Regions from separate parts of the Homo sapiens genome. Here region 2 is linked to region 1. Evidence: fine-mapped expression QTL. A gene starts in region 1. The other region holds a variant in brackets. All regions are shown on one strand. Distances are between the middles of the regions. Region 1 holds the start of ADRA2B (adrenoceptor alpha 2B). Region 2 overlaps ANKRD36C (ankyrin repeat domain 36C).

Evidence for each region. PIP is the estimated chance that this variant, and not a neighbour inherited with it, causes the effect. A credible set is the group of variants that fine-mapping cannot tell apart.
Region 2: its variant is the best candidate, but not a certain one, in a credible set for the expression of ADRA2B in transverse colon (GTEx, PIP 0.68).

The regions. Positions count from the first base shown.
Region 1 is chr2:96,114,213-96,118,601 of GRCh38, forward strand. It overlaps ADRA2B (adrenoceptor alpha 2B), which reads right to left and starts at 2,359. Exons shown (of 1, transcript NM_000682.7): 1 at 1-2,359. The coding sequence starts at 1,937. The coding sequence ends at 585. RefSeq lists silencers at 2,259-2,348, 2,449-2,608, 2,619-3,078, 3,119-3,188.
Region 2 is chr2:95,895,196-95,899,584 of GRCh38, forward strand. It overlaps ANKRD36C (ankyrin repeat domain 36C), which reads right to left. Exons shown (of 88, transcript NM_001393982.1): 57 at 4,113-4,141; 58 at 3,950-4,022; 59 at 2,242-2,270; 60 at 2,075-2,147; 61 at 367-395; 62 at 204-276. Among named protein-coding and RNA genes, the nearest start is that of LINC00342, 70 kb to the left of the region's middle. The variant C/A (reference allele first, on the strand shown) is at 1,930.

The DNA.
Region 1 (4,389 bases):
GGGAAAGGAGGGCCCAGAGACGATGCCACCCCATAAGCCCCCATCCCAGCGCCTGCCAGGGACCGCGAGTGCCTAGCGTGGGTGATCAGTCTTCGTTTCTTCCTCCCCCTCAGCAGCAGGCCCCACTGGGAAAAGTGGAAGGCTGGCTCCGTGCTCTTTGTGGGTGGGGGGGAGATGAAAAAGAAACGAAAACACCACAAGCAAGTGACCTGCCAGGAACACAAGGTCCTCAAGAAAGGGAAGCCCAGACATTGGTCTGGAGAGCATGGGGCTCTGGGAAGAAAGTGCTCTCTCTTCTCCTGGTCTTGGCTATGTTCCAGAGGATTTGAACCACCTCCATCGGCCTGTGCTCAGGGAGAGGGTGGAGAAGGGGTCCCCCACAGCTAAGCCGGCAAGGGGAAGCTTCACTGGGACCCTTGCTAGCAGCCCCCCTGCCCACCCCTCCCAAGGGGTTCCTAAGATGAGGCCTACAGGATCTGGGCAGGGAGCAGAAAGCCCAGGGGAGGCAGCCACACACAGCAGGGCAAGAAGCAGGGTGACCCCGGCGCCACCGCACCAACCCCACAGGGGCAGCGCAGGCGGGCTCACCAGGCCGTCTGGGTCCACGGGCGGCACAGGATCCTCCGGAAGGCACGGCGGAAGTCCTGGTTGAAGATGGTGTAGATAACAGGGTTCAGTGAGCTGTTGCAGTAGCCGATCCAGAAGAAGAACTGGAAGAGGCCATGGGGCACCTTGCAGTGCTTCGGGCAGATGGCTCCCAGGCTGTAGCTGAAGAAGAAGGGGAACCAGCAGAGCACAAAAACGCCAATGACCACAGCCAGCACGAAGGTGAAGCGCTTCTCCCGGGTCAGCTGCGCCCGTCGACGCCACCACTGCCCACCTATAGCACCCACGCCCCTGCCCAGGAGCACCTGGCCACGTAGGGTGGCCAGCACCCGGGAGCCCTGTGGCTGCTGCAGCGGGGGGCTGCAAGCTGAGGCCGGAGACACTGGCACTGCCTGGGGTTCACACTCTTCCTCCTCCTCCTCCTCCTCTTCCTCCTCTTCAGCTTCATCCTCTGGAGATGCCCCACAAACACCCTCCTTCTGGCCCTGGCCTGAGTTGGGAAGGGCAGCCCAACTGGGTGGCAAGGCCCGGGTCCCAGTATCTTCAGGGGTCTCCCCCTCCTCCTTCTCCCCAGTGGACTTCGAGTGTCCGTTGACCTCTCTGGCAGAAGCCACAGAGGCCAGGGCTGGCAGTTTGGCTGAGGCCAAAGCCCCACCATGGTCGGGTCGGGGCTGCTTGGACTCACCCTGCCCAGGCCCCCCCTTGGCCCTGGGACCTCTGCGGTTGCTGCGTTTGGCGATCAGGTAGATGCGCAGGTAGACAAGGATCATGATGAGGCAAGGAGCAAAGAAAGATCCGATGCTGGAGGCCAGGATGTACCAGGCCTCCTGGTTGAGCTTGCACTGGGGGCGCCCGCGCGGCTGGGGGCCCTGGTCGCCCTTGTAGATGAGGGGCGGCAGCGAGATGACGGCGGCGATGAGCCACACAGTGAGGATGATGCACTTGATGCGGCGCGGGGTGCGCTTGGAGTTGTACTCCAGCGCGCGGCTCACGGCCCAGTAGCGGTCCAGGCTGATGGCGCACAGGTGCACGATGGACGAGGTGCAGAAGAGCACGTCGAGCGCCAGGTACACCTCGCACCACGTGCGCCGGAAGTACCAGTAGCCCAGCAGCTCGTTGGCCAGCGAGAAAGGGATGATGAGCGTGGCCACCAGGATGTCGGCGGCGGCCAGCGACACCAGGAACAGGTTCTGAGGGGCGCGCAGCGAGCGGCTGGTCAACACAGCCAGGATGACCAGAGCGTTGCCGAAGATGGTAAAGAGAATGAGGAAGGTGATGGCCGCCGCTATGGCCGCTGTGGCCTGCACGGAGTAGGGGTCCTGGTGGTCCATGACGGGGCGGGAGGTGGGCAGAGGGAGCGCTGCCCGCCCAGTGCGCACCGTGGACGACAGCGCTGCCCGGCTCGGCTAGACAAGAGCGTCGCCCCTCGGGCGGCGCCGAGGGCGCTGGAGCCCCATGGCCTGGACGAGCGGGGCCTAGGAGGTCGGGAACACCCAGGACCAGCAGCCGCCCTCCTACATCCTCCTCCACCGGTGCCCGGGGTCCCTGCCGTCCGCCCCAGAGAAGTTTCCCAAGTTGTCCCGCCGCCGTCCCCGTCCCGCCCGGGACCGGAGAAAGTCGCGCCCTCCCGCCACGCGGATGCCGTACGCTCTGGGGGCGCGGGCCGGGCTGGGCCGGTTCTTAAAGGAGGCGCGGAGGACCTTGCGCCCGCTCAGCTCGCAGGCTTTCGCCCCAGCCGCGCCTGCAGGGGAGTGGGGAGCGGGGAGAGCGGCTGGAGGAAGGCGGAGACTGGAGGCGGGCGCGGGAGCGGGCGGGAGGCGGGGCGGTGGGCGGACCGAGGTGGGCTGAAGGTGCGCTTCGCGGGAGGCGTGAGCCCGGGACTTCCCGCGCCCGGACCCCGCCCAGCGCCTCTACCTGCCTTCCTCCCGGCGGCCGCGCCTCGGGAGAGCGGAGGGGCCCGGCGGCCGGGGTCTCCGGCCCCCAGGCAGGACGCGCGCAGCTGTGGAGGGGTCGGTGGGTGCCGGGAGCCGGGACGCGGAGCTAGCGCGCGGGCCGGCACCGGGACGGGACACTTCTCCCGGGGGAACCGGGCTGGGCCCGGCGCCGGTGCGCCCTGCTCTGCCTTCCGCCGCTCGGGAGCCCGCAGGGAGGGCAGGGCGGGCGTGGGGCTGGGGCGCCGGGTCGCAATACACCACAACCCCGCCCGGCTCGGCCGTGGAGACGCCCTGCGGAGAGGTGGGGGAGCGGGGAGCGGGGAGCCGGTCCCGACCCTTTCCCAGGCGCTGCCCCTCGCGGACCAGCTCCGTCGGGCCAGCGCCGCGCGAGGAGGGCGCGTCCCGGCCTGCGAGCGCCCCCTGCTGCCGCCCGCGGGCCCAGCCCGTCAGCGGCAGCCCGGGTCCCGGAGCCAGCGCTCGCAGCCTGGGTCTTAGGACTTCGGCTTCTTGTGTCTCCGCAGCTGCCTCAGTTTCCTCCATTAAGGGCAAAGGAGGTAACAGGGAAACTGGCTTGGACTCGAATCACAGCATCAACTGCGATTCAGCCAAGGGTTTGTACGGGGCACAGGGCGAGCTGCCGCCCCTTGACTAATGCGAAGGGGAGGTCCCTTCCTTGCCGTGGGGGAGTAAAGGGTGGGGACTTTGTCACACAGCTCCGAGAAAAAGCAGGTCTCAGGGGCAGCCGTGAAGAGAGGAGCGTCCCTCCGCTTCTGTAGTGACCCCGGGGGAAGGGGTTGACCCTCCCTCCCTGCTGCGGTCCTGCCCCACATACACACTGAAGCCCTTCTGGGGGTGACAGTGGAAAGAGGGTTGGGGTAAAAAGAAACTTCAGACTAAGGCCCCCCACTCGCCTTCAAAGCGCTATGAGCAACTGTTCTCCCTCAGGGCCCCAACTCACTCTCCCTGCCACACCGCCACCAGCACCAGCCTGGGCAGCCCTGAGGGCATGTTTCCCCGGTTCTGGAGCCCCTAATGTCATAAGCCCCGCCTCGAGCCAGGCCTCTTATTCACAGCCCACGACTCTGCAAGGCATCCTCTGTATAAATAAGCACCAATCCACCTCTGACAGTGGGGCTCCCCCAGGCCCCGTCCAACCTGCTGGACCTCCTCTCCTCCCTGCTCCCTCCATGGGAGCAGAGCACGTGGCCTCTCAGTGCCCACGGACAATGTCTAGCGCCTCCCCAGGCTCAGGTGGGAGGTGCCCCGTCTCAGGTACCCAGACCAGCACCCCCAGCCACGGGGGTGTGTTGGGAGTAGGTGCCTCCTTGATCCCCCCATCCCTGTCATTCTGCCAGACTCCCCAGCTTCTGGTGAGGTGCAAGTGCCCACAGCCCATGGGGTGGATGCTGCCAGGGCTGGGTTCGGACAGGGCAATCAGCCTCCTTCCCACCCCCAACCCTAGGCTTCAGCTCAAAACCGACCACTCTGCTAGACACAGTTTCCTGGATGTGTCTTTCCCACCCTCTGGGCTGGGCAGGGCCTGGGCGCCGCCTGGGCATACATAACCAGTGATGGAGAGATGCCAGTAGCTCTTTCCCTGAGGAAGGACAGAGGGTGGCCATGAGAGCCTGGGAGCAGCTACTTAGGCAGGTGCCTGCCTATCCAGGGGCTCCCAAGGCCTTCACAGTCTGGGCCTGCTAGAGGCCCACATGGGCATCGGGAGGAACCGCCTTTCCACTGTCTCCAACCACACTTGGGCTGGGGGCCAGTGAGCAGCTCCCCAGACTCTGCAGCCAGCATCAGCCTTTGTCTTCTGACCCATCTTCCTTCAAGGGATGCTGCAGGAGCT
Region 2 (4,389 bases), 220 kb before region 1:
TGTGGGGATGTGTATAATCTTACAGCAAAGATCATGTTCCAGACCAGCAGCATCAGCATAACCCAAGAACTTATTAGAAATGAAGAATCTCAGGCCTACTGAATCAGAATGTGCAGTTTCGACCAGCCCCCCACTGATTTATTCGGGGAAGAGAACTTCTTATCTGGACTGAACATGACATTAAATGTGTTTTGCAAAGTTACCTGTCCTAGATGTTTCTCCATCCTTTCTTTCTCTGGTTATATTTGAAAAAGAATCTTTCTCATCACTTGTAGCCTGAATGGAATTTGAAACAAAATAATAAATAAGGTATGTTTCATAGGCTTTACATTTACTAGCTCACAATATAAATGAGAGTTTTATTACCTTCAAGGCTGCTTTTTTCCGAGAAGACACTGAAAAGCAAAAGGGATACATAATCACTCACATGTAAATATGATAAAGTTATCCATACATTCACACAGTGTTAGCATCAACCTCTGTCCTCCTGCCTGTATTAGTGGAGGCTTTCATGGCTTCTACTTTGTCTCAGGGGACCAGAAGGTGACAGAAATACACTGAAAAAAGGGAACACAGGCTCCATGAAATATACCCTTACAATTTCAAACATGGTATGATTTGTCATGTGTCGAAACCCAAAATAAAACCGTGTCAATATCAATGTGGATATGATGAGCGATGAGGACAAATGTGATCTGAAAACAGAGGAGCAACTCATACACGTGAGAATCAATGTCAAAACAGGTGCTACATGATCCCACATGTCTTTCATGCAACAAATCAAAAGGATTTACACCATTATACTAAAAACATTCATCATGCTCTTTAACTTGCCCAATAACTGAGAAGGCACACAATTACGATGACACTCCAGCTGAACGTACACTTAACATATCTTCAGTGGAAGTGTCCTGAATTGATCACCTTGGATATCTGTTTGCTGATACCTAGTAGATAATATTCATTATCTCTCACACCCATGTAGTGTAATAATTTGCCTAAGTTTCATGTATCCACTAGTTTAGGCTTCCGAAAGTTTCTTCATCCACTCTTGGCACCAAAGGATAATATATTAGCCTCAATAAAAATATCATCAATTGTCAACTTTGACATACTTCTACAAAGTCAAATGGCTACAAGCATTAGATATTAATCAGTTTTTCATTCAGAAATCACTGCAATATTCATTGAAAATGACCATTTTAGGAGTTAGTTAGAATTCAACATCATTCTTGTGTCTAAAATACTCTTGTTGGGAGTATCGTGTTATTCTCTAAAGAAGTCTCATTAAATAGCTATTTTATCCAAGAGGTAGCTCCTTGAACAAGGAAGCAAATTTATTCATATTCAAGATTATCTCATTTTTATAACTAAAATCAACAAAACATGTATCTCTGATGCCTCCTAGTAACCAAGAGGAGTAATGAGTCAGTGTGGTGGTGTATTCCAATTATACCATTGTTTCCTGCTTCCAGTAGTTCCTGGAGCAGCCAAAATAAAATATTTGTTATGAAAATATTCCAAATGCATCTGAAGTGAGTTCACTCAGGTTTTCTCAGCAGAAACCCCAAAATTATATAAATGACTTCCTCTTTTCACACCTTCCTGCCTCACAATCCATCTCCCTTAGGAAAATAGTTGCTACACCAGGGGTCTCCTTAGTTCTCCTAACAGTGTCTACGGGTTGTTACAACAAGCTTTCTGTCTTTTCTTGGCAGTACGATCTGAAGTGTGTAAATTCTATACTTCCTCTCTTTCTCCTTCCACCCTTACTGAAAACAAGCTGGAGAATTAAAGCAAAATTATGTTGTTCCCCAGAGCCCCTTATGCCTTGAACTGCTCTCCATATTTCTTCTTCCCAATTTCAATATGGGGAAGTGTATAATCTTACGGCGAAGATCACGTTCCAGACCAGCAGCATCATCATCA[C/A]CCACAAACTTATTTGAAATGAAGAATCTCAGGACTGCTGAATCAGAATGTGCAGCTTCAACGAGCCCCCCGCTGATTTATTCACGGAAGAGAATTTCTTATCTATCTGGACTGAACATGACATTAAATCTCTTTTCAAAATTACCTCTCCTAGTTTTTTCTCCATGCTTTTTTCCTCTGGCTATATTCAAAAGAGAATCTTTCTCATCTCTTGTAGCCTGAATGGAATTTGAAATGAAATAATAAATTAATAAAGTATGTTTCATAGACTATACATTTACTAGTTCACAATATAAATGACAGTTTCATTACCTTCAAGCCTGGTGGTTGCTCAGAAGACACTGAAAAGTAAAAGGGATTCATAATCACTCATATGTAAAAATGACAAAATTATCCACATATTCATGCAGTGTTAGCATCAACCTCCGTCCTCCTGCCTGTATTAGCGTAGGCTTTGATGGCTTCTACTTTGTGTCTGGGGACTAGAACATGACAGAAATATGCTGAGAAAAGGGAATACAGGCTCCACGAAATATAGTCTTAGAATTTCAAACATGGTATGATTTGTCATATGCCAAAAACTAAAATAAAACCATGTCAATATCAACGTGGATATGCCGAGTGATGAGGTCAAAGTGATCTAAAATCAGAGGAGCAACACATACACCTGAGAATCAATGTCAAAGCAGGTGCTACATGATCCCACTTACCTTTCATGCAACAAATTAAAAGGATTTACACCATTATAATACAAACATTCATCGTGCTCTTTAACTTGCCCAATAACTGAGAAGGCACACAATTACGACGACAATTCAGTTGAACGTACACTTCACATCACTTCAGTGGAAGTGTGCTAAATTAATCACCTTGGATATCTGTTTGCTGATACCTAGTAGATAATATTCATTATCTCTCTCAACCATATGGTGTAATAATCTGCCTAAGTTTCTTGTATCCACTAGTTTAGCCTTCCGAAAGTTTCTTCATCCAGTCGTGGCAACAAAGGATAATATATTAGCCTCAATAAAAATATCATCAATTATCAATTTTGACATACATATACAAAGTAAAACTGCTGCAAGCATTAGATATTGATCAGTTTTTCATTCAGAAATCAGTGCAATATTCATTGAAAATGACCATTTTAGGAGTTAATTAGAATCCAGCATAATTTTTGTTTCTAAAATAGCCTTGTTGGGAGTATCATGTTGTTCTCTAAAGAAGTTTCATGAAATAGCTATTGTATCCAAGAGGTAGCTCCTTGAACAAGGAAGCCAATGTATTCAGATTCAACTTTGTCTCATTTCTGTAACTAAAATCAACAAAACATGTATCTCTGATGCCTAATAGTAACAAAGAGGAGTAATGAGTCAGTGTGTGTGTTTTTATGCCAATTCTAGGATTGTTTCCTTCTTCCAGCAGTTCCTGCAGCAGCCAAAATCAAGTATTTTTTATTAAAATATTCCAAATGCATCTGAAGTGAGTTCACTCAGGTTTCCTCAGCGGAAACCCCAAAATTATATAAATGACTGCCTCTTTTCACACCTTCCTGCCTCACAATCCGTCATCCTTGGGAAAATGATTGCTACACCAGGGGCCTCCTTAGTTCTCCTACAGTGTATATGGGTTATTACAACAAGTTTTCTGTCTGTTCTTAGCAGTACGATGTGACATCTGTAAAATCGATACTTCCTCTCTTTCTCCTTCCACCCTTACTGAGAACAAGCTGGAGAATTAAAGCAAAACTATGCTGTTCCCCAGAGCCCCTTATGTCTTCAACTGCTCTCCATATATCTTCTTCCCAACTTCAATGTGGGGAACTGTATAATCTTACAGCCAAGGTCATGTTCCAGACCAGCAGCATCAGCATCACCCAAGAACTTACTACAAATGAAGAACCTCCAGCCTGCTGAATCAGGAAGTGCAGCTTCGACGAGCCCCCCGCTGATTTATTTGGGGAAGGGGACTTCTTATCTATCTGGACTGAACATGACATTAAATCTGTTTTCAAAATTACCTGTTCTAGATTTTTCTCCATCCTTTTTTTCTCTGGCTATATTCAAAACAGAATCTTCCTCGTCACTTGTAGCCTGAATGGAATTGGAAATGAAATAATAAATAAAATATGTTTCATAGACCATACATTAACTCGTTCACAATATAAATGAGAGTTTCATTACCTTCAAGGCTGGTGGTTTCTGAGAAGACACTGAAAAGCAAAAGGGATTCATAATCACTCATATGTAAATATGACAAAGATATCCATACATTCATGCAGAGTTAGCATCATACTCTGTCCTCCTGCGTGTATTAGCGCAGGCTTTGATGGCTTCTACTTTGTGTCTGGGGACTAGAACATGACAGAAATACACTGAGAAAAGGGAATACAGGCTCCATGAAATATGCCCTTGCAATTTCAAACATGGTACGATTTCTCATATGTCAAAAACTAAACTA